Linked DNA regions of Homo sapiens: region 2 is linked to region 1. Evidence: fine-mapped expression QTL. A gene starts in region 1. The other region holds a variant in brackets. All regions are shown on one strand. Distances are between the middles of the regions.

What was found.
Region 2: its variant is fine-mapped to the expression of LINC01409 in uterus (GTEx, PIP 0.98).

What each region holds. Positions count from the first base shown.
Region 1 is chr1:773,240-783,794 of GRCh38, reverse strand. It overlaps LINC01409 (long intergenic non-protein coding RNA 1409), which reads right to left and starts at 4,997. Exons shown (of 6, transcript NR_187359.1): 1 at 4,703-4,997; 2 at 1,659-1,858. LOC100288069 (a long non-coding RNA gene) reads left to right here and starts at 5,161. Exons shown (of 20, transcript NR_168328.1): 1 at 5,161-5,511; 2 at 9,515-9,624. RefSeq lists an enhancer at 4,875-5,444.
Region 2 is chr1:1,557,697-1,568,251 of GRCh38, reverse strand. SSU72 (SSU72 homolog, RNA polymerase II CTD phosphatase) reads left to right here. Exons shown (of 5, transcript NM_014188.3): 2 at 3,336-3,479. Among named protein-coding and RNA genes, the nearest start is that of SSU72, 12 kb to the left of the region's middle. The variant G/A (reference allele first, on the strand shown) is at 5,808.

The DNA.
Region 1 (10,555 bases):
AAGAAAACAGATACAAAAAAGTATACGTATATAACATTCAAGAACAGGCAAATTTATGGAGAAGGCAGTCAGTAAGGTGTTTATCTTTGGGGGTTGTAATACTGAATGCAAGTGAGCACATGGAAGAAACTAGGGTTCTGGAAATGAACTGTATATTAATTTGGATAGTGGTTAGTTTTACCTTTCATATCTAAATTCATAAATACTTAAGTGAAGGTATTCATAATAGATACCCAAATTAAGAAAGTTCAAAGTTCATTTTCTTGCTTAGGTTTAAAATTTCCAATATTTATCACAAAATAAGCATGTAGGATCAAGTTTTTAGAGTAGAATTTTGCAGGTAATTTTAAATCTCAAGCCCTATGAAGGTTACTAAAAAAAAAAAAAATTCCTAAAATAGAAACATTAAAAAGGAGAAATAAGATATTTACTTCACAAAATTACTCCTTTGGGGTCTTGCAGTATGAGATATATGAGTTACTGCTCAGAATACATAGACTGTCCACCTATCCTGTGCACTGGGATGATCACTACCACTTCTTCAAATCCAGCTAAAAGCATCACAGCCTCAATGAAGCCTACTCCAGGCCAGAACTGTTCACGTGCCTCCTCTCTGCTCATGTCCTATATATTACCTAAGCAGAGCTCACCAACAATATTTTTCATCAACAGCTTAGAGCAGCGCTGCCAAATAAAAATACCATGTCGGTCATGTAAGTAATTTAAAATTTTCTTAGTAGCCACTTTTAAAATAGGAAAAAGGTGAAATCAGTCAATTTTATTTAACCTGATACATCCAAAATATTATCACTGCAGTATACAATCAATATAAAAAATTATGGAGATTTTCTTTTCCATGCTCAGTCTTAGAAATCTGTGGCATATTTTATGTTTGCAGAACATCACAATTCAGACTACCCACATTTCAAAGATTAATAGCCACATGTGGCTACAGGCTGCTGTACTATTTAATAAAAAGTGCATATCTAGAGTCTAGCCCCTTGCTTTATAAAGTGTGATCTACCATCCAGCAGCATCAGCATCACCTGGGATCTTGTTAGAAATGTAGAAAGGCAGCCCATCTCAGAACTACTAGAAGAAATAAATTTAACAGGATACCCAGGATTGGAATGCATAGCAAAGACTGAGAAGCAGTAAATTAGATCACATATAGCTTGGGAGTCTTACAGAATTGCTATTGCCATTCAACTATGATATGGTATTATCCCACTGACTAATATAGAACACTGTATTTAAATAACAATAGTTTTTCTATGAATCATGTTTTCTCTACACTGTCCAATGCAATTTTCTACAATGATGAAAATCTTCATATATGTGCTGCACAAAATGGCAGCCACTTGCCACATGTGGCTGTTGAGCACTTGAAATGTATCTGGAGCAAATGAGAAATTGCATTTTAATTTAATTAATTTTAATTGATTTAAACATGTGGCAAATGACTATCATACTACATAGCACAACTCCAGGGGAATTGGTTACTATGTCACAGTGTCATCTCTAGGAGAATCCTTAGGACAAATTTGGAAAGTTCTAGTCAAGATAATCTTTCGATTAACTGTACTTCTTCTGTTTTTTTGATTTTATGAAGTCATATTTACCATCTTACACTGGCTAAGGGCAAATTTGCATCTTACCTCTAAGGAAGCATAATGAAAGTTACAACACGTGCTTTGTGTGTATTAATATTATTCCAGCTTATCATCAATTAAAAATACCAATATCTAGACCTGTACAGGCTTTTTAATTCTCTGAGAAGGACCTGGATACTCTGGAGAATACAAATCTGTGAGGAATAATGAGTTGATTAATGTCAACTTTCCCAATCCAGATTTGCCTAAAAGAAATAAGGGAAAATATCTGTTAAACTCACCCACTTTACTCAACCTTAAATATTCAACAGATACTGTAATTGAACTTGCTTTATGCAAGTATTTCTTGGTGAGACAATGAAATGACATTAGAAAATATGCTACAAAGAATAAGTATCTTGTCCTCAGTTTCTTAGCTATCAAATTAAACTCACGTTTCCAAGGATTCTTTTCAGCCTTCTAATTATACCACTTATATTCATTAAAAGTAATGTATCTAATAATTACATTTTTAACAGTAATGTATTCCCAAAGAAAAAAAGTCAGTCATTATTTAAAAATCCAAGTTGGATTATATATCACTGCTTCAGTGAAATAAAGTTTTTCTTTATTAATAGACAATAATGAATGAATAATAAACAAGAAATCATGCAGCTATAAAAAGCAAAAATCTGCTAATACAAAGAATAATTAATCACAATGAACATCTCTGTATAAAATTCTAAATCACAAAAAATACTTTCTAATTTTGCCGCCCATCAGCCTAAATATAAGGGTGCTTCTCCACAAACCAGAATCCAAAAAATCTTAGGTAATTACTTTTTCTACCACTTCTACTCAAGGTAGGAGGTAGACACGAAGGAAGCTAGGGCATGATTTCTACTCTGACCACATACTCTTTTTTGACTCTCCGTGTTTAGTCCAATATACATAGTCCAGTGTATAGTAATTATTACAAGTATACCAAAATATAAATGGCTTCAAGGTATATATAACCTAAGGTTAAAACAAATTATAAATCAGATTATGATAATTAACATGGCACAGAGTTAAAGTATTTATTGTTAATAACTCACTTAGCATAATAGGCATGTTTAGCCTAAGTAACTGGTGTCATAATATTTTTATGCCTAGGAGGAATTCTTTTTATATTAGCTCTCAAAAGAGATAAGATTCTCTCCACGTGGTTTGGGCTTACCCCTTTGACTGAGAGCATGCCACTTTTTACTAGAGGTTGATGTATGACTCAACTTAGAGTTGAGGATGAAAAGTGGGGATCATAGCACCTGCCTATACCCTGGTACAGATCATATGACGTTGATTTATTTATTTGTGGAGTCAGGGTCTCGCTGTGTTGCCCAGGCTGGAGTGCAGTGGTACGATCATGGCTCACTGCAGCCTTGAACTCCTGGGTGTGGTGGTGCACACCTGTAGTCCCAGCAACTCTGGCAGGCTGAGGCAGGAGAATCGCTTGAACTCAGGAGGTGGAGGTTGCAGTGAGCCGAGATTACGCGACTACACTCCAGCCTGGAGACAAAGTAAGACTCCATCTCAGGAAAAAAAAATTTTAAATTAAAAAGTTCTAGTATCTAAAATGAGCAAAATCGCCAGGCGCGGTGGGTCACACTTGTAATCCCAGCACTTTGGGATGCAGAAGTGGGTGGACCATCCGAAGTCAGAGGTTGAGACCAGCCTGCAGTGAGCCGAGATTGCACCACTGCACTCCAGCCTGGGAGACAGAGTGAGACTCCATTTCAAAAAAAGAATTAGCCAAGCGTGGTAGCATGCACCTGTAGTCCTAGCTACCGGGGAGGCTGACGGGGAAGGATTCCTTGAGCCCGAAGGTCAAGGCTGCAGTGAGCCTTGTTTGCACCACCTCACTCCAACCTGGGCAAGACCCCATCTCAAAAAAGAAAAAAAACCCACAAAAACAAAAAACAAAACAGAACAGAACAGCATCACTTCCTTATCATTAGTTTGAAGGAAGTGAATTGCCTGTAAAAGTTTCCATTTTCAAAAAAAGTGTTAAAATATAGTGTAAAGCCAGGCACGATGGCTCATTCCTGTAATCTCAGCACTTTGGGAGGCTGAAATGGATTGCCCCTGGAGGTCGAGGCTGCAGCTGAGCGATTCTCCCGCCTAAGCCCGGCAAGTTGCGGAGACTACAAGCGCGTGCCACCATGTCCAGCTAATTTTTTGTATTTTTGTAGAGAAAGGGTTCCACCATGTTGCCCAAACTAGTCTGGAATTCCTGAGCTCAAGTGATCCACCCACTTCCGCCTCCGCCTCCCAAAATGCTGGGATTAAAGGCGTGAGCCACCGGGCCTGGCCCAATTACTTTCTTCAGTCTGAGCATGAGTGCTGGAAGAAAAGCTCTCACTTGCATATAATTTTTTAGAGACAGAGTCTCCCTCTGTTACACAGGCTGGAGTGCAATGGCGCAATCTCAGCGCATTGTAACATCAACCTCCAGTGCTCGATCGCTTATATAATCTCAGCTCACTGTAATCTCAACCTCCCGGGCTCGATCGCATATATATACACACATATATTTGTTTGTTTAGACGGAGTCTTGGTCTGTTGCCCAGGCTGGAGTGCAGTGGCGCGATCTCCGCTCACTGCAACCTCCGCATCCCGGGTTCAAACAATTCTCTGCCTCAGCCTCCCGAGTAGCTGGGATTACAGGCACCTGCCACCACGCCCGACTAATTTTTGTGTTTTTAGTAGAGACGGGGTTTCAGTGAAACCATGCTGGCCAGGCTGGTCTTGAACTCCTGTCCTCGTGATCCACCCGCCTCGACCTCCCAAAGTGCTGGGATTACAGGTGTGGGCCACCTCGCCCAGCCGACTGCTTATATTTTTAAAAAGATGTTTTCTTCATTTCCTAGCCCCTTCTACCCCGCTACAAGTTTCAAAGACTTAATGCTATTACAAAGGACCGTCAGAGGTCAAGCTCAGGGGTGCAACTCCCTCATGCCGGGCAGCCTCAGGGGGCCGACCCTACCCAGGATGAGCGGCGCCAGGTAGCCGGGGACGCTCCCGGGGATCCCCGGGCCCTGGCTGGGGGAGGCGTTGTGGAGCGCACGTACCCAGGCTCAGATGAGGCGAGTGGGCGGCCGGGGCTGCAGCTGGCGCTGGCCATTGAGGAGCTTCTGCGCGACAGTGCGATCGGTTGCACCTTCTGCGACAGGTGCCGGCCGGTTGGCGCGCAGCGCCTGCTAGCGCAGAGTCTGGCCCTTGCTGCGCCCGGCGCCGAAGACCGGGAAGTCGTAAAGCTCCTCCTCGTGGCTTATGTGCGGCGGCGGCCGGGCAGAAGCCTAGCGACACAGAACTGCCAGCTCAGCAGCCGGTTACATCCCGCCCGGCCACCAGTAGGCAGCGTCCGCTCATGCGCGCTCCTGGAAGAACCAGCAGCCCCCACCGCGAGTTCTGATTGGCTCTGCGTGAGTGGTAGTCCCCTGTGACGTCACAAGGGTGCGCCTTCCGTGACGTCACAAGGGCGGGTCTTCGCCGACACCATAGAGGTGGGCCGTTGGCGACGTTAGAGGCGCGGGTGTTCGGCTACATCACTGGGGCGCCATGGTGCCTGGAGCTGGGCAGTTTTCTCATCAGAGTGGGGACTGGTAAGAGTGACCTCCCCGCCAGGTTCTGTGTGTTGCCGGCTGAAGAAGGGTAGCTGAAAAATTCAGACCCAGCACAGTGTTTATGTTGGTCAAAAATAGAAAACTATGTCTGGCGCGGCCGAGGCGGGAGGACCCTTCAGGCCAAGAGCAGCCTAGCAACATGGCGCAACCCCATCTCTGTAGTCCTACCTCAGCCCCCCAGCTACTTGAACCCAAAGGTTCAAGGCTCCAGTGAGCTATGATCCCACCACAGCATTCCAGCCTGCGAGATTGAGGTAAACCCTGTCTAAAAAAATTTAAAAAACTATCCAGGTGTGCAACAGGGAGGGACTGCTAAATAAAACATGAGGCTGGCTGGGCCCTACTGTAATCCCAGCACTTTGGGAGGCCGAGGCGGGAGGATGGATGGCTTGGGCTCAGGAGTTCGAGACCAGCCTGGGCAACATGACGAAACCCCGTCTCTACAAAAGATACAAAAATTAGCCGGGCGCGGTGGACACCTGGCCTAATTTTTGTATTTTTTTCTAGAGATGGGGTCGGGGGGTGCCTCGCTATGTTGCCCGGGCCAGTTTCGAACTCCTGAGTTGAAGCAATCTTCTCACCTTGGCCATCAGAGTTGTCGGGATTACAGGCGTGAGGGACAGCGACCCACCTGGGTTAGGCTACTTAATAACATAAAGTGCTCCGCCAGGCTCAGTGGCTGACACCTGTAATCCCAACACTTTGGGAGGCCGAGGCGGGTGGATCACCTGAGGTCAGGAGTTGGAGACCAGCCTGGCCATGGTGAAACCCAGTCTCTACAAAAAATACAAAAATTAGCTGGCCGTGGTGGCGCATGCCTGTAGTCCCAGCTACCTGGGAGGCTGATAAAGGAGAATTACTTGAACCCGGGAGGCAGAGGTTGCACTGGGCCAAGATCACACCACTGCACCCCAGCCTGGGCGACACAGCGAGACTCCAAAGTTTGACACCAGCCTGGGCAATGTAGTGACACCCTGTCTCTACAAAACAAACAAACAAAAACCCAGGCATAACTGTGTCCACCTGTGGCCCTAGCTAGTTAGGAGACTGAGGCAGGAGGATCACTTGAGGCCAGGAGCTCAAGGCTGCAGTGAGCTATGATAATCCCACTGCTTCCCATCCTGAGCAATAGAATGAAAGCATGTCTCTAGATAGATAGCTAGCTAGATAATTGATACGTAGTTTTGTATCAAATTTTTTCCCTAGATTTGAGCATGTTTTTCTAAAGTAGCATTCAACACATCAGCATTTTACAGTGTTATTATTTGTTAATATGATTATGTTTTTCTGAAATACAGTGTCCTTTACAAAAGCAGTTTTGTCTTTCAAAGCGCATAGATAAGGCCCTCAAGTAAATTTGTCTGATGTTGCCGACCTTGGTACCATTTTGTCCACTTGATTGAAAAGCCAGTCAATAATTTCAGGTCACTGTTGGCCTTAGAAGAAGAGCCCAAAGGCAACAAGCAAAGGCGCTGGTGTCCAGTCGCCTTCTAGAAGCATTTTCACTTTCCCTTAAGGTTTCCCTTGATGAACATAGAAGTACTGTATGTAGAATTGACCCAGTGCTGCCCTGGCAACTTTGTATATTAGGCCAAATTTACATTTCTTAGCTTTATGAGAGGCACCCTGGTAGGCTAGTGGAGTTACACACAAAGTCTGATCTCAGCTGCACTGTCCAGAAATGCAACACGGTCCAATCAAATAACATTCTCTGAGCCTGTTTCTTTAGCTGTGAAAGAAGAATAACATACCCATCTAAAAAGGCAGCTTATTGTATTTGATTGGTCTTTTATTTTCTATGAAACTGTGTTTAACACAGTAATTATTTTCATTTGTGTACTACATTTGTGTTGTGTTTTTGGTTTTAGTTTTGTTTTTGAAATGGAGTCTTTTTTTTAGTGGTTTTTTGTTTTGTTTTGTTTTGTTTTGTTTTTGAGATGGAGTCTTTCTATTGTCACCCAGGCTAGAGTGCAGTGGCGTGATCTCCGCTCACTGCAACCTCCACCTCCCAGGTTCAAGTGGTTCTCCTGCCTCAGCCTCCTGAGAAGCTGGGATTACAGGTGCCCACCACCATGCCCAGCTAATTTTTAAAATATATTTTTAGTAGAGATGGGGTTACAACATGTTGCCCAGGCTGGTCTCAAACTACTGACGTCAAGTGATCCACCCGCTTTGGCTTCCCAAAGTGCTGGGATTATAGGCATGAGCCACCGCGCCTGGCTTGTTTTAAAATAAGGGTTTCTTGGCTAGGCATGGTGGCTCACACCTGTAATCCCAGCACTTTGGGAGGCCAAGGTCAGTGGATCACCTGAGGTCAGGAGTTCGAGACCAGCCTGACCAATATGGAGAAACCCTGTCTCAACTGAAAATACAAAATTAGCCAGGCGTGGTGGTGCATGCCTGTAATCCCAGCTACTCAGGAGGCTGAGGAAGGAGAATTGCTTGAACCCAGGGGGCAGAGATTGCAGTGAGCTGAGATCGCACCATTGCACTCCAGCCTGGGCAATGAGCAAAACTCTGTCTCAAAATAAAAAAAAGATTTCTTAAAATGATATTTTCAGTATTTTATAGATGATGTGTAAGCAGCAAGCTTAATAGGATGTTACCCGACACTTTGCGAGACTGGCAGCTGATTTGATCCAGATGTCTCTAATTCTTTTTTCTTTTTCTTTTTCTGTTTTTTTTTTTTTTTTTTTTGACAGAGCCTTGCTCCGTCCCCCATGCTGGAGTGCAGTGGCAAGATCTCGGCTCACTGCAACCTCCACCTCCCGGGTTCAAGCGATTCTCCTGCCTCAGGCTCCCGAGTAGCTGGGATTACAGGCGCGCGCCACCATGCCCAGCTAATTTTTTGTATTTTTGGTAGAGACAGCATTTCACCATGTTGGCCAGGCTGGTCTCGAACTCCTGACCTTAGGTGATCTGCCTGCCTCGGCTTCCCAAAGTGTTAGGATTACAGGCGTCAGCCACTGTGCCTGGCCCAGATGTCTCTAATTCTAACATGAGATGTATTGCAGGATCATAGCAGAGTGAGTTGCTGATGTATCCAGAAGGAAATGAGCATGGAACACTCACGACAGCTGTCCTGAGAAGTGTGTGTGTGCTGTGCTTGAATATCTCACTGCTCATTTATACACAGGCTTTCTGGTGACTGAGTTAACAGTACCTGTTTCATAAATAATGTAGCCCTCTTTCTTTCTTTCTCTCTCTCTCTCTTTTTTTTTTTTTTTTGAGACAGGGTCTTGCTCTGCTACCCAGGCTGGAGTGCAATGGTGCAGTCTCAGCTCACCGCAACTTCACGCCTGGCTAATTTTTTCTTTTTTTTTTTTTTTGAGACGGAGTTTCGCTGTTTTTGCCCAGGCTGGAGTGCAATGGCACAATCTCGGCTCACCACAATCTTTGCCTTTTGGGTTCAAGGGATTCTCCTGCCTCAGCCTCCCGAGTAGCTGGGATTACAGGCATGTGCCACCACACCTGGCTAATGTTGTAGTTTTAGTAGAGACGGGGTTTCCCTATGTTGGTTAGGCTGGTCTCAAACTCCTGACCTCAGGTGATCTACCCACCTCGGCCTCTCAAAGTGCTGGGATCACAGGCATGAGCCATCACTCCTGGCCTAATTTTTGTATTTTTAGTAGAGAGAGGGTTTCACTCTGTTGGCCAGGCTGGTCTTGAATTCCTGACCTCAAGTTATCTGCCTGCCTCGGCCTCCCAAACTGTTGGAATTATAGGCGTGAACCACCATGCCTGGCCAGCTCTATTTCTTTAAGCCTACATGTTTTGCAAGTATTTGAACATACAATTACTCAGCTTCCCTTGTTTACGCGTGAATTTTGTAGAATCTTAAATATTTTTTCCAATCTAAGCTTTATTTTATCCCGTTTCTTCTATATTTGTATAACTTTAGGCGGCTATCTTCATTGAAAGTTTTTTCTCAAAAGCCTTAAGATAGAACATAGTTCTTGGCAGCAATTTGAAAGTTATTTGAGGAGAAGGGGAGACTTACAATGATGATTCAAATGAAGGAAACTAAAAAGTAATGAAGCAAGGCAGAGGAAAAAGCAGTACTCACTTGAGCACATCCCAAAAGAATAACATTTCAAATGTAACTAGAAAAAAGTATGCTGAAGTTCGCAATACAGAAATAATTATTAATAAGATAGCTTTAAAGCCCTGCTCAGCTTTTGAATGTTGGGAATTGACCCAGAGGTGGCTGTAACCTAAGATGGTTCCTTCAGTAATGACCATTTTTTCTTTTTCAAGATGATGATTATTCCCCACCTTCTAAGAGACAAAGACCAACGAGCCACCACAGCCACCAGTCCCAGAACCCGCCAATGCTGGGGAACGGAAAATGAGGGAGTTCAACTCTGGTAAGTTCTCAGCGAAATCCATGACCTTTTCCTTTATCTTCTGGACTCTCAATGTGACTGATGAAAGTTACCACATGCTCTGCAGGGGGAAATGGTTTAGCATGTGTTACTACATCTTAATCACATCTTTGTAAAGCCAGGAGCATTTTACAAGTCACGTTACAGACATTGTTTAAACATAGTCTGTATTTACCAAAGTATAGGACATTGTATCATCTCATATTAATTAGTTAGTTGGCTCAAAATTAGTGCTAATGACTTAGTAATTCAGTGATTTCTGTTAGCTTTAAAACCTTTATTTCAGAACTATTTCACCTCTTGGTTTTCATTTTTGCGGTGTGTCACTGCCTGCCGGCTGCTAATTTATTAACTCCCAGTGAATCATGTCCTGTGAAGGGACTGAATATTAGTGGCAATTTATGTTGATGATTTGTATTTTGAATAAACAGTTTGAATACATAGAACATTAAGCTTGTATACATTTTGAAAATAGTATTTTAATATTCTACTGTGTCATAGTTACAATGATTGGATATATATTGAATTTATATGTACTTTAAGTTGTTATATGTTTATGGTCTTTAGCATTCTAACGTGCAATTGTATATCTGTTAAGCCTTTTTTTTTTCGAGATTAGACTGATTTATTGAGGCGTCTGTTTGATGCCACATTAAGTGGCCCAGGCTTTGTGTAGGGGTTGAGGTAAAAGCAGGAAGAAGGGTGGTGAGAGGCGGGGCACCAGGGTTAGGTTGGAATACCTGGGGGTGCTCTGAGGCTCCCCAAGTTTCCCTGGTCTTGGCCGGCTGTGCTGCTGGCCTGGGCATCTGATGGGCCTGCAAGGGTGGTCCAGGGGCTAGGGCAGGGACTTTGGAGTCACGCCGTTGGCTTTGAATCCAGACTCCTACACTTGGTAGCTGTGAACTCTCCATGC
Region 2 (10,555 bases), 780 kb before region 1:
AAGGCGTTGGCCCTTCAGGCGAAGCCTGTTGGTGTCAGGAGTGTTTTCCAAGCTGTCCTTGCTTTTATGTAAGAAACGCTGTTGAGTCGCAAGCTGGCTGCCCTGTCGGTTGCATCAGTTTGGGAGAAATACTGCTTCTGTTGCTAAATAGCCTTTTTGCCATTCGTGAACCTTTTGTTGGGGGAAAAACAAACTGCATTTTGTTTTTAAATAGGCTAACTTAAAGGAACGTCCAGCAGGTGGTGAGTTCTTGTTGGTGTTGGGAGGCAGGCTGTCTCCTTTGGCTGCTGTGATCACGCTGATCCTGGGCTTCTTTGTGCGATTTTTTTTTTTTTTTTTGAAACAGAGTATCGCTCTGTTTCCCAGGCTGGAGTGCAATGGCGCGATCTCGGCTCACTGCAACCTCCGCTTCCGGGGTTCACGCAATTCTCCTGCCTCAGCCTCCCGAATAGCTGGGATTACAGGCGTGTGCCACCATGACTAATTTTTGTATTTTTAGTAGAGATAGGGTTTCACCATGTTGGCCAGGCTGTTGTCGAACTCCTGACCTCAAGTGAGCCACCGCGTCCGGCCCTTGTTTGTGCTTTGACGGAACATATTTTATTGTATGTTGTCTGAATTGGTAAGGAAGTCATTTTAGGCTTGTTGTTTCTCACGTGTGCTCCCTGTGGTATGCCTTGTGTCTGGGCCTCCGTCACCCTCTCAGTCACAACCAACAGTTGACTTTATTGCTTTAACCTCATGTTTCCGTCAGGATCTGTGGTTATGACTGAATGTCAGGAATTTTAATTTTAGCATTTTCACGTTTATTTCACAGTCCGGGTGCCGTGAACACGGGTTTGTAGTCATGAATCGCTGCTATTGTGCCACATTTCTGGCCGTGTGTGGTAGATGTTTGGAGAGCCGGGTTGTGTAGCTCGGAATATCTAGGGATGTAAGGACTGACGCAGCTGTCATCAGCCTCAGGGGACTCAGGTGTTTCACGTACACTAGATGAGCACATCTTCTCTGTGTGTGTGGGTGACGTGTGTGGTGGCGCAGCAGGGTGCCCTTGGGCTCTTTTGCTTCCTCTACTCATCTTCGGAGGTGCGCGTGGAGCCGCATGGCCTGTCCTGCCCCATGGATGGATTATTCTACTTGTCTGTTCTTTTGTGGCTGTGGAAGGCCGGCAGTGGGCATCCTGCAGGCAGCCATGTTGCAGAGGCACGTGTATGTCCGTAGGGCGGGTTTCTAGAAGCCAGTGTCTGTGAGAAAGGCACAGGTAGTTTTCACTTGCTGGGTGTTGCCCCATTATCCGCATAGAGACTGGTTACACTCCAGCAGCCCCCTCTGCCTGAGTTTTTCCTCTCTTGTGACACTGTTACTCATTCAACATTCAGTAATTTTTTTTTTTTTTTGAGACAGGGTCTCGCTCTTGTCGCCCAGGCTGGAGTGCAGTGGCGCGATCTCAGCTCACTGCAACCTCTGCCTCCCGGATTCAAGTCATTCTCCTGCCTCAGCCTCCCGAGTAGCTGGGACTATAAAAGCGCCCGCCGCCTCGCCCGCCTAATTTTTTGTATTTTTAGTAGAGATGGGGTTTCACCATGTTAGCCAGGCTGGTCTTGATCTCCTGACCTCATGATCTGCCCACCTCGGCCTCCCAAATTGCTGGAACTACAGGCGTGAGCCACCGCACCCGGCCTTACTTTTCTTTTTTTAAAATAATATGGAACTCCTCACGTGTCTGTGTGTCATTCTTGCTCAAGAGCGAAGCAGCAGCACTTTTCTGAACAAGAATGACAGGCCTGTAAGAGGAGTTTAGTGTTAATGGAAGTGTATGTGCGCCCTGCGCCCTGAGCCAGGCAGATTCCTTCAGATGCAAACCTTTTGTGATTTATAAATAAAGCTAGGTTGAGAAGTCTATATTTTTTAGGTAATTATAAGTATCAGTTGTGACTTTACAAGAACACATGTTCTATACCAAAGTAACTTTTTTTGTTGTTTTTTTGGGACAGAGTCTCGCTCTTTTGCCCAGGCTGGAGTGCAGTGGTGAGATCTCCAATGTCTGCAACTTGTGCCTGCTGGGTTCAAGCGATTCTCATGCTTCAGCCTCCCAAGTAGCTGGGATTACAGGCACGCACCACCATGCCCAGCTAATTTTTTTTTTTTTTTTAGTAGAAACGGAGCTGGGGTTTCGCCTCCTGGCCAGGCTAGTCTGAAACTCCCAGCCTCAGGTGATCCATTTGTCTCGGCCTCCCAAAGTGCCTGGATTGAAGGTGTGAGCCACCGCACTCGGTGCCAAAGTAACTTTTTTACATGTAACTTGTTGTGACAAACTTAAGTGTGCTTGTCAGCGATGACAGAAGAATTTTCTGGTCTTACCACACTCCATCAGTGTTTGGAGACGACCTCTCTTTCTCCTTGCGTGAACTAGAGCTCATTGGTGGCACATGACACACGTTTCCTGTTCAGCTCTTTTCTCCAGTTGATTAGGAAAAGTATTTGGTCAGTTTCCTCACCTGTGACTAGGAAGTCCAAGGAACAAGCACCGTCGGACCCATCGCGGCATCTGTTCTCTGCCTGCAGCAACCCTGAGCCTGTGGGACTCCTTTGGGTGTTGGGTCTCGGTTCCCATGGAGCCACATCGTGGGGGTGTTGGGAAACTGGGGGAGACAGAGTTTCCTGTGGTGGAGCGGGCAGTTGGACCTTTGTGAGTCCCTTAGGAATCCTGTGAACTTGGATCCTCCAAAGCCAGGACGTTGGTCGATGGCCAAAATGTTCTGATGAAATCTTCCCCAAGTCCACATCAGTCAGTCCTTTCAGTTTAAAGTAAAGCCTTAAACAAGCTATGATGTTCAGATGTGGCTTTGTGATGGTCAGTTCTGGTTTGATTGCTTTTGTGTAACTTGCTACAGCCTGTCGCCCAGGCTGGAGTGCAGTGGTGCTATCTCTGCTCACTGCAAGCTCCGCCTCCCGGGTTCACGCCATTCTCCTGCCTCAGCCTCCCGAGTAGCTGGGACTACAGGTGCCCGCCACCGCGCCCGGCTAATTTTTTGTATTTTTAGTAGAGACGGGTTTTCACCGTGTTAGCCAGGATGGTCTTGATCTCCTGCCTTCATGATCCGCCTGCCTTCATGATCCGCCTGCCTTCATGATCCGCCTGCCTTGGCCTCCCAAAGTGCTGGGATTACAGGCGCGAGCCACCATGCCCGGCCTAGATTAAAAATTTGAAGACATATTCTCTACTATGAGCCAATGAAATTACTCATTTTGTTTCTATCCCATTTGCTGTCCCTTGCTTTTGGAATTTTGTGTCTTAGTGTGACTGTGATTCTTTCTCTCCTTTTGTCTTTCAGCAAACGGGGATTCAGCGTCCGATCCTTTGGAACAGGGACTCACGTGAAGCTTCCAGGACCAGCTCCCGACAAGCCCAATGTTTATGATTTCAAAACCACATATGACCAGATGTACAATGATCTTCTTAGGAAAGACAAAGAACTGTATCCCAGCGGGTTGCCCTTTAAAAACCCCCCGTGTGGTCCTCCCTGGAAGGTGTTACGTGTGGCTCGGGCACAGGAGGCGTGTCACCCTGTGCAGTGCACACACTGGCTCCTCTGTCTTTGCGAGAGCTTGGTTTCTATTCCTGGTGCACGTCGGATCGTCCACGGGTTAGTTCCAGTGCCACCCATGGCAGTAGGCGTGGTGAGGCGCACAGACACGGTGTGGGGTTCACCCTGACGTGGTTCAGCAGAGGGTCGTGACATAGCGTAGACCAGGGATGCTTAGGTGAGGAGGTGGAACCCACAAAATCCCATTGCTTTTCACACTGCAGGGCTGCCCCGTTATTTCCTTTGCAGGTTGGTGTGCGTGCGTGTGTGCGTGCGTGCCTGATACACATGGAGCCGGGCTGCTTCACACATCTGGTGAGGTCGTTAGAAGGTCAGATAAAGAAGAGGGCGGAGCTTGCTAACCAAGCTGTTAGAAGAAATAATGGGAGAGAACATTCCTTCATTTCAGGAGGACACAGAGCAGGCTAGGTCTGCCGCGAAGACTCCTATAGAGAGAAGAGTATTCTTAAACTAGATTCTGATGGACGCAACACCAGTTGCATAATGGTTATGACAATCAGTGCCCGGGTTTTTGACCAGGCATTTCATGGTCACCCCCACGCTAATGGAAAGTTTCTGGATCTTATTTTGTTATAGTGAGTGATTTGTAGTTTTCAGAACGGAGGCCAGGCCAAACGTATTCCAAATGAAAAGAGAATAGGTGTCAAATGCTAAACCTTTTATCTTCGTGTTGGCACTGTTGCCATCCCCGCCCTCTCCCGACATCCCCGCCCTTGACCAGCATCTCTGGCCTTGCCCAGCATTGTCTATGTATTGGCACTCTTGCCATCCCCGCCCTTTCCCAGCAGAGTCTCACTGTGTCACCCCGGCTGGAGTGCAGTGGCGAGATCTTGGCTCACTGCAGACTCACTGCAACATCCACCTCCCGGGTTCCAGTGATTCTCCTGCTTCAGCCTCCTGGGTAGCTGGGATTACAGGCACGCGCCACCACACCTGGCTAATTTTTGTATTTTTAGTAGTCACAGGGTTTCACCATGTTGGCCAGGCTGGTCTTAAACTCCTGACTTCAGGTGATCCACCCTCCTCGTCCTCCCAAAGTGCTGGGATTACAGGCGTGAGCCACCATGCTCAGCCCTACTCTTGTATTTTTTTTTTTTTTTTTTTTTGAGATGGAGTCAGAGTCTCACCCTGTTGCCCAAGGTGGAGTGTAGCGGCTTGATCTCAGCTCACTGCAACCTCCCCCTCCCAAGTTCAAGCGATTCTCTGCCTCAGCCTCCCGAATAGCTGGGATTACAGGCATCCGCTGTCATGCCTGGCTAATTTTTGTATTTTTAGTAGAGACGGGGGTTTCACCATCTTGACCAAACTGGTCTTGAACTCTTGACCTCGTGATCCAGCTGCCTCGGCCTCTCAGAGTGTTGGGATTACAGGCGTGAGCCACCATGCCTGGCCTCTTGGAATATTTAATAAGCTAAAAAATTCTTATACACAGGTAGATTAATTAGGTAGCCAGGAGTGGCCCCTGAAAGTATGTCTGGCAAAACCTAGAACTGCATCCTAGCCATCACTGTACCTTCTGCCCTCCCTGCTGTCTCCTCTGCCAGTTACAGTTAAAAGGTTGTGGGTGAGGACGCTGGGCAGAGTCCCAGGCGTCTGCTGTCAGCTCCCCAGCCCGGCCTGCCTGCCGAGCCATCTGGGCGTCCCACGGTGGAGAGTGTGGTGCTTGTGACGCGGTGGTGCTGGGAGCCATCCTGGTGGCAGATGTGGGCTCTCACTGCAAGTCAGTGTAAGTCCCCAGGGACTGTCAGCAGCACGTCCTGCTGCCCCTCTCTCTGCAGAAGCCCTGGTAACCTGCGTTTGGAAAAATCTCTAAGGATTTCTGAGGAGCTGTCAGGCCATGTCCTTGTCCACCCTGTGTGGGGCACGGCTTCGACATGGCTCTGCTCCCGTCGTGGGCTGAGAAGGAGCAGGTGGGGCTGTGCCTTGGAAAGGAGGCCCTCCCGACATGCCTTTGTGCGAGGTCCCTGTCCATGCTGTCTCCATCCCGGAGCCTTACGGCGATGGGTGGCCACAGAGCCTATTCCAAGAGTCTGGTTTAGGGCTGGGTCTTCCCATCTTCACCTCTGAGTCTTAGGCGATGCGTGACCACGCAGCCCCTTCCAGGAGTCTGGTTTAGGGCTGGGTCTTCCCATCTTCACCTCTGAGTCTTAGGCGGTGCATGACCACGCAGCCCCTTCCCGGAGTCTGGTTTAGGGCTGC[G/A]TGCTCAAGAGTCTGGTTTGGGGCTGGGTCTTCCCATCGCCCTGGAGGAGGCTTTTGTCTCATCTCATGATTCACATTAAACTCTGTGCCATGAAGCTTAGCCTGACATCCTGTTTTTGACAATTACTCTTCAGTTAGCACTGTTTATTTTTAAGTTCTTGTATATTCAGTAAGAGAAAGAAAAGCAGAGAGTGACGCACATCCTCACACTCCCTTGATTGGTGTAAGCTCAGCCCCTTCATGTCAGCCCACTGTGACCTCCTGGGTTCCAGACCTGGGAAGTACTTGCCACGTTCTGCAAGGACTGAGTCCAGCTTCAGCAGTCTCATCCGGAAGGACTTGGTATAGGCAGAGGATGAGCCTGTCTCTGGTCATTCTAAAAGAAGGAGCTGAGCCCAGTGTCCCAGAATTCGGAAGCTCCTCCTTTACAGAGGGACTGTAGGGGTTGGTGATCTCCCAGGAAGCATCGGCCCAGAAGAACCCCGCGTGCGTGTGTGTGCTCTTGGTGTGTGGTGGGGGGAAGGAGTGGCAGCAGGGGTGGCGCTGGGACACTGTCAGCCACGGGCTCTGCTTTGGGGACCTCGTGTGGGAAAGGCATTGCCTGTGGTGGCCCCTCAGGAGGCTCTAGGAGGAGCGTGCCTTCATTACCTTATTTCACTCGGGGGGCGTCTTTGCCCCCTAGGTGGGGGCAGAAGGTGCAGAATGGGAAGCCTGCCACTTAGCTAAAGCTCTTGCACATGATGCCCTTGGCCTGGAGAGGAGTGAAGTCCCCAGGCAGTTCCCTGTGGACACTGGCACGATGCCGGGTGGGGCCTCAGGGGTGTTGAGATGTGCAGGTCGGGAGGACCCCGATAACGTTTCCTGGTTAGTGATGGGTGCAGGGGGGCCGCGGGAAGTGACTGTTACAAGTGAGAGCCCGAAAGCAAATCTGCCCCACAGCAGCCGGTGCGTTGGCAGAAGTCATCGCCGTAAACTGCAGTGGAAGCAAGACGGGGTTCAAGATGCGGCCCAAAGATAAGACGCAGCACTTGGTCGAGTGTTCACAGCGTCAAGACAAAGGACGGGCCGGCGCGGTGACTCAGGCCTGTAATCCCAGCACTTTGGGAGGCCGAGGTGGGTGGATCATGAGGTCAGAAGTTAGAGACCAGCCTGGCCAACATAGTGAAACCCCATTTCTACTAAAAATACAAAAATTAGCCGGGCATGGTGGTGCACGCCTGTAGTCCCAGCTACTTGGGAGGCTGAGGCAGGAGAGTTGCTTGAACCTGGGAGGCAGAGCCTGCAGTGAGCCGAGATCGCGCTACGGCACTCCAGCCTGGGTGACAGAGTGAGACTCTGTCTCAAAAAAATAAAAAAGGAAGGACAGTGTGACTTGGGAGGAAAATGCTGCTTGTTCAGAGGCAGGGCCGGGGTCGAGGGGGACCCCACCACTGCCATCTGCCTACTTGCCATGTGGCCAGGGCTTAGGTTTCTCTGTGCATGCCCACCTCGCAGAATTTCTGATAATTAAATAAATTAGGACATGCACACACTGAGCCCGAGACAGTGTTTTAAAGCCTTCAATAAATTTTGGCCAGTTGTCCTATTAGTATTGAAATACTTAATTTATTATTATTATTTTTTTAGATATGGGTCTTGCTGTGTTATCCAGGTTTGTCTCGAACTCCTGGCCTCAAGTGATCCTCACATGTTGGCCTTCCAGAGTACTTGGATTAGAGGCGTGAGCCACTATTCTCAGCTTTCATTTCTTAAATACAAAATCTCCTTGACTTTCTGTGAGGTTGCCTGCTGGTAACCCCATGCTAAAGTGAAAAAATCCTGCATTGAGCCATAATAAGTTAGAGACTGTATTTGGCTCTAGATGGCTGATTTTGGTCTTTTCCCCCACAAGCCAGAAGTGAGCCTGAGGGGTTGAGGGACTTGCTGCCTGTGCCTCTGAAACCTCCCTTGGGGATTGTCAGGGTACGAGTCTAGGTTTGCAGCACTGGGATGCGAGCCTTCGGTAAAGTTAGACGAGCCACGCCTGCAGTTCCAGCCTGGGGAGACCGAGGCAGGAGGCTCAGTTGAGCCCAGGAGCCGGAGGCCAGCCTGGGCAGCATAGCAAGCCTCTATCTCTACAAAAAACACACAGATGTGGTGGGTGTGGTGGCACAGCTACTCGGGAAGCTGAGGCAGGAGGCTTCACTGAGCTGTGATTGCGCCATTGTGCTCCAGCCTGAGGAAGAGAACAAGACTCTTGTTAAAAAAGTTTCATCCACATTTTCTTTTGGGAATTAATAGTATACATACATGGGGCTGGATGCAGTGGCTCACACCTGTAATCCCAATACTGGGAGACCGAGGCAGGTGGATCACCCGAGTTGAGTTTGAGACCAACCTGGCCAACAGGGTAAAACCCTGTCTCTACTAAAAGTACAAAACGCTAGGCATGGTGGCACATGCCTGTAATCCCAGCACTTTGGGAGGCCGAGGTGGGCGGATCACCCAAGGTCGAGAGTTTGGGAGCAGCCTGACCAAAATGGAGAAACCCCCGTCTCTACTAAAAATAAAAAATTAGCCGGCCATCGTGGTGCATGCCTGATCCTAGCTACTCATGAGGCTGAGGCAGGAGAATCACTTGAACCTGGGAGATGGAGGTTGCCGTGAGCCGAAGTTGCACCATTGCACTCCAGCCTGGGCAACCAGAATGAAACTGTCTCCAAAAATAAAATACAAAAAGTAGCTGGGTGTGGTGGCGTGTGCCTGTAATCCCAGCTGCTCAGGTGGCTGAGGCGGGAGGGTCACTTGAACCCAGGAGGCAGAGGCTGCAGCGAGCTGAGATTGTGCTGTTGGACTCCAGCCAGGGTAGTAATAATAGTAGTAGTGTATATACCTGGACCAGGGACGGGGATCTAAGCTCCCCTGACCTTTGTAGACAAATGGGAACTCTACTGTGTAGGTTCTTTCCTTGGGTGGACTGACCGTTTTATCAAGAATTGTTTTTATTGAGATAAAATGTACAAATCATGCACTTCCCTGAGTCGCGTGTCCAGTTCTGTGGGTTTCAGGACATTCATGGAGTTGCAGCCGTCACCACAATTGGTTTTGAGACGCTTTTCGTCTCCCAAGGCCGTTTGCTGCTGCCCATTCTCCTCCCAGTGCCTGTAGCAGCTTCCCGTGCTACAGGTCCGCCCGTTCCACACCGTCCAGTTTAGCTGCTTCCCGTGCTACAGGTCTGCTCATTCCACACTGTCCAGTTCATATGCAGCCTTTTGTTCTTTCGCTGAGCATGCGTGGAACTATTTCTAAGTCCCAGGTTTCTTTGCCATGACTTTTCCTCGCTCAGCCTCAGTGGCACGTGGAGTAGAGCAGCTTTGCGCTGGGTGTCCTGCCGAGGGGCTTGAGCCTGGCTCCCAGGGTCACGTGCAGAGGCTTCTCTATTTTTTTTCATTTTACACTGAAGCCACTTTCCATAGTTGAGCTTTCTTGCAGGATTTTTTCATTTTTGATTGAAAGGAGTCTGGTTAAGCCATCCCAAGCTTGCTTGGAGTGCCTTTGGGGAGAAGACAAGTGACTTCTGTTTCTAAGTTAGTGAATGGCCAGTCTGACCTAGTGAAGTGTCACTCAGCCCAGTGAGGGGGTCCAGGCAACAGCCGCTGGCCCAGAGGGTAGAGGAGGAGGGAGAGGCCGTTGTGAAAGGAGGGCTGGGGTGGCAGACACCGGCCTGGACAGTTCCCCCGCTCCAGGGAAGCCCATTCAGCCACATGAGAAGGTGTGTGGGAGTCTCACAGGATCCTACAGAAAGTTCATCCTGTGTACATGTAAGTTAGTGAAGGTTTACCAGCTTTTTGTGTTATGAACTGCAAAACCACTTGTCTTCAAAAGCAAGTAAACGTGTAGCTCTAAATGTTAATGTGACTGTTGTCCTGTGAAACGCAAGTGCATCTGACACTTTCCTGGGTCTCGTCTGGCCGTGCAGCTGGAGACCAAGCCTGTGTCTGGCATATACTGTTTGTACCTCTCTTGTGGATTTTTTTCTAATTACCTAATTTTTTCTAATGACGTTTGGGGTTTGGATTATTATTATTATTTGGTTTTGAGACAGGGCGTCTCTCTGTCGTGTGGGCTGCAATGCAGTGGTGCTGTCACAGCTCACTGCAGCCTGGGCATCCCAGACTCAGGTGGGTGATCCTGCCACGTCACCCTCCCCAGTAGCTGGGACCAGAGGCCTATGCCATGCCCAGCTTTTTTTTTTTTTTTTAATTGAGACAGAGTCTCACTCTGTTGCCCAGGCTGGAGTGCAATGGCACGATCTTGGCTCACTGCAACCTCCGACCCTGGGTTCAAGCGATTTTCCTGCCTCAGCCTCCCGAGTAGCTGGGATTTCAGGCATGTGCCACCACGCCTGGCTAATTTTTGTACTTTTAGTAGAGATGGGGTTTCACCATGTTGGCCAGGCTGGTCCTGACCTCATGTGATGAGCCCGCCTTGGCCTCCCAAAGCTCTGGGATTATAGGGGTTGCCACTGCACCTGGCCTGTGTTTTAAATTGCACATTTGTTCATGTCCGTCCTCTGAATTCATTGTCTTTTAGGTTAACTTCTGTGTGTGGCCACTTCCCTGTGGACATTTCCTTGTCTCAGAGTAAAATGTGGTAGACTTCTTTTTTGAGATGGAGTCTCAGTCTGTCACCCCTGCTGGAGTGCAATGGCGTGATCTCGGCTCACTGCAATCTTTGCCTCCCGGGTTCAAGCGATTCTCCTGCCTCAG